Linked DNA regions of Homo sapiens: region 2 is linked to region 1. Evidence: fine-mapped expression QTL. A gene starts in region 1. The other region holds a variant in brackets. All regions are shown on one strand. Distances are between the middles of the regions.

Region 1 (4,392 bases):
TGAGCCATCACGCCTGGCCCTTAAGACCAAATTCTTAACATGGCCTAAATTTCCTGCTCAGTCTGGCGCCTGCCTTCCTCCTCCCTGCCCCTGGCTTTGGTCACACTGCTCTGCAGCCTCAGTAGCCTTCTTCTGATTCCTCGAAGACATGTGTTTTCCTTCTACAAGGTGTTTGCATGTGATTTCCATGCTTCCTGGGACCTCTTCTCCTACTCTCTAAGCTGAATTAACTTCTACTCATCCACTATATTTTAGTTCAAACGTCATGTTCTCAGAGAAGCTGTCCTCCAACCCTCTCTCCCTATCCCCGAGACCAGTTTAGCTACTGCTCTTGTGCGTTCTCAAGGCACCATACAGCTTTTCTTCATGGTACATATTACATTTGTAATGTTATTCTTATTTGATTTTTCTCCTAGATTGTCAGCTCCAAGGACTCAGTCTCTTTTGCTCACAATTATATCTTCAGGACATAACACAGTGCCTGGCATATATTAGGTGCTGAAATCATATTTATTGCATGAATAAGTGATTGGAAGCATTTTTCAAAGGATTACTCTGGGTACTGTGTTGAGAACAGTTAAAGGGAGGTAGGCAAGAGGGTATGCTATTAAAGTAGTCAAGGAAAAAAAATGGTGGTGGCCCAGATTAACTTTGGTGGCAGTGAGGAAAGAGCGAAATGAATGGATTTGAGAAATATTTAGGCAGTGGATGTGACAGAACTTGGTGAAATGAGATGCAGAGAGTGAGAGAGGGGTTAATCTCAAGTCTTGCTCATGACTCCAGATTGGCAAAGAGCCATTTTTGAGATTCGAAGGAAGAACAGATTTGGAAGTGGGGTACAGAGAAAACCACAGAAGATAATTTAGCTTGGAATCTATAGGTTTGGAACTCCTGTTTGTCTTTCAAGGAGATGTCAAGAGAGCAGCTGGACATATGAGTCTGGATTTCAGGAAAGAAGTCTGGGCTGGATATATAAATTTGGGAATCATTAGCATATATATGAAATTTGAAGCTTTGGGAGTAGATAAAATATCTGGGGAGAAAGAACAGATACTGAGAGAAGACAGCTCGGGACAGAGCCAAGAGCCTCACCAGCATCTAAAGAGAGGAGGAGAGGAAGCAAATGAGATTGAGAAGAGCAGACAATGCTGTAGGGCAGAAAGCAGGAAAATGCTTCAAGGAGAGTGAGTTGACATACCCCACCGAATACTACTCAAAGGTAAAGGAGATAACAGTGTCCACTGGAGTTCTCCACAAGGAGGTCTCCGGTGACCTTGGCCTAGACAGTTTCAGTGGGTGTCAGGGACACAGAGTGGAGTGCTTTTAAGAATGAATGGGAAGTAAGGAAATGAAGACAGCAAGCGTTGACTCTGAAGGGCGGAGAGAGCTGGGACTATAGCTAGAGGGGCTCAGAATGCAAGAGATACACAGGCCGATACAAAACAGGTTAGGAATTGGCAGTGGGAAAACTGCTTCTAATCAGTGTTCTTGGCAGTGCTAGGCCTCCTGGCTGAGCTGGGGACACAGCCGCCCCAGGGCACACCCCTCGGTCGCTGAGGGCAACAGAATGCGGCTTGACAGATCCAGGGCCTGGGACCCCTGCTGGAATCGGCGCGGCCTGCCAGCCCACCCCACCCCACGTCCCCTTCCCGGACCTGGGCCTCCCCTCCCCCAACACCCACTGCCCCTCGCTTCGCGTCCTCCATACCCGCCCCTAGTCACCCCGAGGGGCAGGAGGTAAAGGGCAGCGGAAGGGACGGTGTGAGGGCCCGAGTGGACCCTGCGATGGTGGGTATGAGAGGACGGTCTGCGGGCGCGCGGTGGAAGGGCGACCCGGGGATGGGGGATGGGGCCGGCCGGGGGACCCGGGCTGCCGCAGGGTAGGGGCTACAGGGTCCGCCGGCCGCTGGTGATCGGGACGCAGCCACCGGGGCTGGGCCGGGGCAGGGACACCTCCTACCTGCGCGGTGAGGCCCCGGGCCCAGATGACGGAGGTGGCTCAGGCTGCGGGGTTCGGGCTCCGCCGCGGCTTCTCCATCACAACATCCCCCGCCCAGGAGCGCGCGGGCCGCGGGGCCGCGCCCCGAGCGGCGGAGGCGCGCGCAAGGGGAGGGGGAGGGGCGCCATCTTGGGGCGGGCGCGGGAGCGAGCTCGGCGGGCGCGGCACTTGCCGCAGCTTCTTGGGGGCCTCACCCTGCGGGCGGCCCTCGGACCTCGGTGAGCCCCGCGGTCCAGCCCTCCCAGCAGACACCCCTGCAGCCGACTCCCTGGGACCCCCGCCTAGCGCGGCGCCGTCCTCCACTACTATTCCACAGACTCACCCTGCGCGCCCCGCAGCGCCCTGGTCCCGCACCCACGCCGGGAGACGCGCGGACGGGGCTGGAGCCCGAATGGCGGCGGCTGTGCGGCGCCGCGGCCGCGCGGGGAAGGATTCCCGGGAGGCACTCTGCGCCGCTCCTGCTGCACCGCTCCCTGACGTCCTGGTGGGGAGGCTCTGAGGACACAGCGTTGCTCATAATAATAGCTCGTATTTATTGACCACTTACACCGTGCCGGGCTCTCTATTAAACCGTTAACGCGCATTAATCTTCACATCAGCTCTGTAAAATCACCAGAATTATTATCCTCATTTTTCAGAGGCTGAGGCTAAGATTAAGAGAGGTAAAGCGACTTGCCCGCAGTCACAGTTAGTGATGAATTTAGACTGGAACTCCGATGTTTCTTGACACTGAAATACCTCTGCTGCTGAGCATAAAGCTGACATCAAGGCCTGGAAAATGTCAAGAATACATTGCTCCCCGGTAGAAATTCACAAGGAAGGGGATATTGTGAATGAAAAGTGTAAAGATGTAAGGAAGATGGTGGGGTGCAATACTTACTACAGACCCTCCCTGGATAGTGGGATACATCCCAATGGTCAGATCAGTGACCCAGAGGCCATCAAGGATAATGAGAGGTTATATTACCATCCAGAAAGCCTCTACATGCTAATCCCTCTCAGGTGCCTAAAACTAAAGATATCCAAATCTGAGTTCGTTCTTTCTTTCAAGGCAGGGTCTCACTCTGTCACCCAGGGGCAAGATCATGGCTCTCTGAAGCCTCAGCCTCCAGGGCTCAGATTCCTCCCGCCTCAGCCCCCGGAGTACCTGGGCCACAGACATGTGCCACCGCGCCTGGCTTTTTGTATTTTAGTAGAGAGGGGGTCTCACTGTGTTCCCCAGGCTGGTCTGGAACTCCTGTGTTCAAGCGATCCTCCCACCTCGGCCTCCCAAAGTGCTGAGATTACAGGCGTCAGACACAGTGTCCAGCCTCAATTTATTGTTTCATCCCCCTTTATTAGTCTTTTAAGGAGTTTCACTGGGGTGAAAAAGAACCCTCTTCAACACACACAACACAACACACATCCCACACTGGACACAACTCCATTCCATCCATTCCAATGAATGACACCAACTACTGGCTTCCCAAGCCAGAAGCTTCAAAGTCATCTTTGAATATACTTTTATTTTACTTGTGGTAAATATAAATGTTTTAACTTTTTATTATGGCAAATTTCCAATATATACTAAAGCAGACAGAACAATATAATGAACCCTCATATACCTATCATTCAGTTTCAACAATTATGAATTCACAACCAATAGTTTATAATGATTTGACAAATGCCTATGATATATGAACCATGTATCAGGTCCCAAGCCAGGCCCTAGGGATCTAAAGACGAATCAGATTTGACTGCATCTCACCTGGAGGAAATGACATCTGACCTGGGTTCTTGAAAGATGAAGAAGAATTACCCAGAAGAACAAAAGTGTCCTCATTCATTCATTCATTCATTTTCTTTCATCAAATAATTACTATGTATGAGGTACTGTCCTTGGTGCTAGCAACAGGTCAAGAAACAAGATACAGTTCCGTCTCTCATACAGCTTGAAATTTAACAGGGGAAAGAGACATTAAATATGTAATTAGGAATGTGATGAGTGTCTTGAAGGAGATGTACCGGGAGCTATGTGAGTGGGCTTAATTTGGCCTGGGAAGTTTAGGAGGCTTTCATAGGAAGTGACAATTCAGTGAGGGAAAGGGATGAAGGAGCTAGAGGTCAGCCAGGAGAAGAGAAAAGTATTCCAAGTAGCAGGAGAAATACAGGAAGGTCAGTATGGGTGTTGATATAGTTTGGATATTTGTCCCTGATCAAATCTCATGTTGAATTGTAATCCCCAATGCTGGAGGTGGGGTCTGGTGGGAGGTGTTCAGGTCGTAGGGGTGGATCTCTCATGGCTTGGTGCTGTCTTCCCCATGATGAGTGAGTTCTTGTGAGATCCGGTTATTTAAAAGTGTGTGGCATGGCCAGGCGTGGTGGCTCAGGCCTGTAATCCCAGCACTTTGGGA
Region 2 (4,392 bases), 26 kb after region 1:
AGCAGCCTTGCTTCTCTTCCCCTCACTACAGGAGGCCCCTTCTGTGGGTCCTGGGTCCTTCCCAGGCTTCCTACTGGGGCTGAGGAAAGAAGCTTGTCGGTACTTGGGCCTGAGCACCCCCTGCAGGCCGCAGGAATCAGTGCACTCCCGCCCTTCAACTAGAGGCCAGAGCCCAGGAGTTTTTCCTCTCTGAAACTAGCTCTCCACAGCCTTTGTCCCACACTCCTCTCAGCCCTGGCTGTGCATCCTTAGTGGTACACACCCTTCTATGCTTCTTTCCCTTCTTCTGCAAACCTTGCTGCCCAGAGTGGATTTGGGGACCTCAATCTCTTGCTTCTCTGGGAACTCGAGCCCAGAGAAATTCAACCATCTCTTTTCCTGGGTAGTCTTCTCTATCCTCCTAACCAGCAGCTTTTTTACTTCTCCCAGAAGGGGTCTGAACACGAACCTGCAAATGTCTGCAAATGACAGAGCTTCCTCCTGCATTGCCAAGAGCCAGATGTAAGCTGGACACTGACCCACTGTCCCTTGGAATGGCTATGTCTATGTCCAGCCTGCTCTGCTGTTGATATGAGTTCTCTGACCTTAGCCATTTCTCCTGGGCCCACTGAGTGCTAGGTGTGCTGGGCCTGAAGTCTGTGGCTGTATACTCCAGGGAGCAGGAACTGAATGTCTCCTTTCCTCAGGGGTAGGAGGCTTAGGGATAAAGCTCCAGGCAGCCAAAGAGCTTGCTGATCCCAGCTGACCCCTCCTCTTGCTCAGTCTATAATGGGCCTTAGTGCTATATATATATATATATAGCATGTATATAGCACTTGCTATGGTTTGAATGTTTCTGTCCCCTCCGAATTGATGTGTTGGAAGCTTAATTCCCAATGTGCCAGTGTTTGGAGGTGCGGCCTCATGAGAGGTGTTTAGGTCATGAGAGCTCTGCCCGATGAATGGATTAATGCTGCTATAAAAAGGGCTTTCAGAAGTGGATTCTCTCTCCTCTGCTTTTCTGCCACGTGATGAACAGCATTTGTCTCCTCTAGAGGATGCAGCGTTCAAAATGCCATCATAGAAGCAGAGACCAGGACCTCACCACACACCAAACCTGCTGGGCACCTTAATCTTGGACTTCCCAGCCTCCAGAACTGTGAGAAATACATTTTTGTTCATTATAAATCATCAGTCATGGGCATTTTGTTATAGCAGCACAAACAGACAAAGGTAGCACTATGAGTCCCGTTTTATGAATGAGGAAGCCAATATTAGGTATCTTAGCCAAATCACATTGCTAGCAAGTGGCAGAGCCATGATTTAAACCCTGGGTGCCTGACTCCTAGGGGTGTGTTCCTACAAGGATAGTGTGTTCTTATCAAGGGGTTCGCTGGCAAATATTTAACAACTGCTCTCTAGGGGGAAAAAGCACTGATTTGTAACATTTGCAGATTTTTGTGATATAAATACTCCTACCATGGCCAACTTTAAGCTACCGACAAGACATCACCAAATGTAGAGTTGGGAAGGGATGTACAGTAACACACTGCATACAATATTCCTACCATACAGATATGATAGATATAAATAATCACAAGAGCACAGGGGATAGTAAAATGTAGTAAAATAATTAGGAAGTGATTACTTTTAAGTACTGATTATCTTTGGTTTTAATAGAATGTATTTAAGTTTATATAGTTTGATTTTTAATAATAGCTGTGTTTTAACAACCAGCTCTCAAAATTCTAAATTTGACAATCAGCTCTCATGAGCCAGCTCCAGCACCCCACAGTCTACCATGCTGCCTTTGTGTACAGGACAAGGATCCTACCTGCTTTAGTCACTGCTATATCTTCAGCACTGAGAACACGCCTGAAATACTGTATGTATTTAATAAATATTGAATCCTATTATTCCTACTTCCTAATTATACATAAAATCTGTCCATTTCTCTCTGCCTCTTTAGTAATGCAAACACCACCTTTTCTTGTGTGACCATTGAAATAGCTCCTCTACAACACATTCTTTATAACAACCACAGTGATCTTTAAAAACGTATCTGAGATCACCTTATGCTCCTGCTTAAAATTTTTTCTTGAAGTCAGTTGTAATTTTTTTTTTTTTTCTTTTTTTTTTGAGACAGAGTCTCACTCTGTCACCCAGGCTGGAGTGCAGTGGCGCGATCTCGGCTCACTGCAACCTCCGTCTCCTGGGTTCAAGTGATTCTCCTGCCTCAGCCTCTCGATTAGCTGGGACTACAGGCGCCTGCCACCACACCTGGCTCATTTTTTGCATTTTTAGTAGAAACAGGGTTTCACCGTGTTAGCCAGGATGGTCTTAATCTCCTGACCTTGTGATCTGTCCACCTTGGCCTCCCAAATGCTGGGATTACAGGCGGGAGCCACTGCACCTGG[C/T]CGAAGTCAGTTGTAATTCTAATGTATACACAGTCTTCAAGAGGAACAGTTTAGAGAAGTTGAATTGTTTTCTGATTTTCTTTCTCAATTCTCTTCCTACCCCACAGAATCACTGCCCAGTTTAAAGTTTGTTTCACAGGGCATCCCTTTCATCCTTATCACTTAAACTTTTCAGTGGCTTACTGTCATACTCCAGACCAAATCCAAGCTCTTTATCTTAGTTAAATGATCGAAGTCAGGCCTAATTCTCCAAACTTGTTCCTTTCCTCTCTCCTTCCACCCTCCTTCCTCTCCAGTCACCCTGGCCTCCTTTCAGATTCTCAAACACATCAAGATCTCAACCCCTCAGGATGTTTGTACCTGTTTTTCCTTTGTCTGAAAATCTCTATCTCCTTTTCTTAACACAGCTAGTTCCCTACCCACCCTGCTCCAACCCTACAGGTCACTGCTTAAAGAGACTTTCCTTGTCCACTCTATTTAACACTATATTGTCTATCATTGTATTCTGTTCATTTCCTTCACAGCTTGAACTCAAATTGTTATTACACATTTAGTTCCTTGTTGCTTACTTGTCTCCCTTCTCCACTAGACTATAAGCTTAATAAGGGCAGGGACCATTTCTCTGTATTCCCAGGGCCCATTACTCTGTCTAATATTAAGTGCTCAACAAATACTTGTTCAATAAATAAATGAACCCGCAGACCACAAATGGCCATAGGGCTGTTCTGGTCACCAGACAGCCCTATATGAGCAAAGTGTGAACCCTTGCAGGACCACAAAATAACATTCTGACAGCAGGGGCTTTGCTGTGACCCCCAAATCTGTGACAATCATTCCAGACTTGGCCTCCACTGTCAGGCACTACTTTCATCTACTTGGCCCCAAGGCCTGAATTGGAAAGAAAATGCCCACCACGGCTGGATTTAGAAGGAACAGAATGACTCCACCTTGATGTACCTTTTCCATGGCATGGGAAGACTACCTAATCTGAATCTATGGAAATCAGCCCTAGCAGCCTGTTCTTGGGCTAGCAGAAGAGCCATTTGCAGCATCCCGCCCAAGGAAGGTCACCCTTACTGCCTTTTTATTCCCCTGCTACTTTTAGGTGTTCACAATGTAAACATGTGACAGGTTGAGGGCTGGAAGCTTTGAGTTTCCATTCTGTATTACTTCTGGTGCCTTGCTCAAGATAGGGGTGCAGAAAAATAGACCATCACCTGAGAGTTCTCGGGGAGGACTCCACTGGTGCTGAGCGACTGATAATTGAGCACACCATCTCGGCTGACCAGGGCATGGGCTTAGGCAATTCCACTCACAATCAGAGCCAGAGGGGCAGGCTCCATAAGAGCACCTGCACTAAAATCTTCAGGGAGCTCATCGGTCCCTCCACCTATCTATCAGGTTTCTTTTTTTTTTTTTTTTTTTTGAGATGGAGTTTTGCTCTTGTTGCCCAGGCTGGAGTGCAGTGGCACAGTCTCGGCTCACTGCAACCTGTGCCTCCCAGGTTCAAGCAATTCTCCCGCCTCAGCCTCTCAAGTAGCTGGGATTATAGGCACCCACCACGATGCCTGGCTAATACTTGTATTTTTAGTAGAGACAGGGTTTCACCATGTTGGCCAGGCTGGTCGCAAACTCCTGACCTCAGGTGATCCACCCACCTCGGCCTCCCAAAGTGCTGGGATTACAGGCGTGAGCCACTGTGCCTGGCCTATCTGTCAGGTTTCAGCTAGTGGGGCAGAGAGGACCAGGGAGGTAAGCATAACCAAGACTTTCCATATAGTCCAAGTGGGACCCCCTTGTTCTCTACAAAGCCCCCATGGTCTTCCACAGATCCATGGATAGTCCCTCTTTTCCTAGCCCCAGAATTGTGCTATACCAGATCGATGTCTTGATCTTTTCCATGACCTCTCATGATCAACTTTCCCAGATCCAACGTTCCCCAAATCTTGTTGAGTGCTTTCTCTGCCAGCCATCATGCCAGGTGCAAGGGGCATAA

The links. PIP is the estimated chance that this variant, and not a neighbour inherited with it, causes the effect. A credible set is the group of variants that fine-mapping cannot tell apart.
Region 2: its variant is the best candidate, but not a certain one, in a credible set for the expression of APBB1 in whole blood (TOPMed, PIP 0.78).

Annotation. Positions count from the first base shown.
Region 1 is chr11:6,417,025-6,421,416 of GRCh38, forward strand. It overlaps APBB1 (amyloid beta precursor protein binding family B member 1), which reads right to left and starts at 2,070. Exons shown (of 15, transcript NM_001164.5): 1 at 1,961-2,070. RefSeq lists silencers at 1,838-2,027, 2,038-2,437.
Region 2 is chr11:6,443,476-6,447,867 of GRCh38, forward strand. No RefSeq gene overlaps it. Among named protein-coding and RNA genes, the nearest start is that of HPX, 4.7 kb to the left of the region's middle. The variant C/T (reference allele first, on the strand shown) is at 2,397.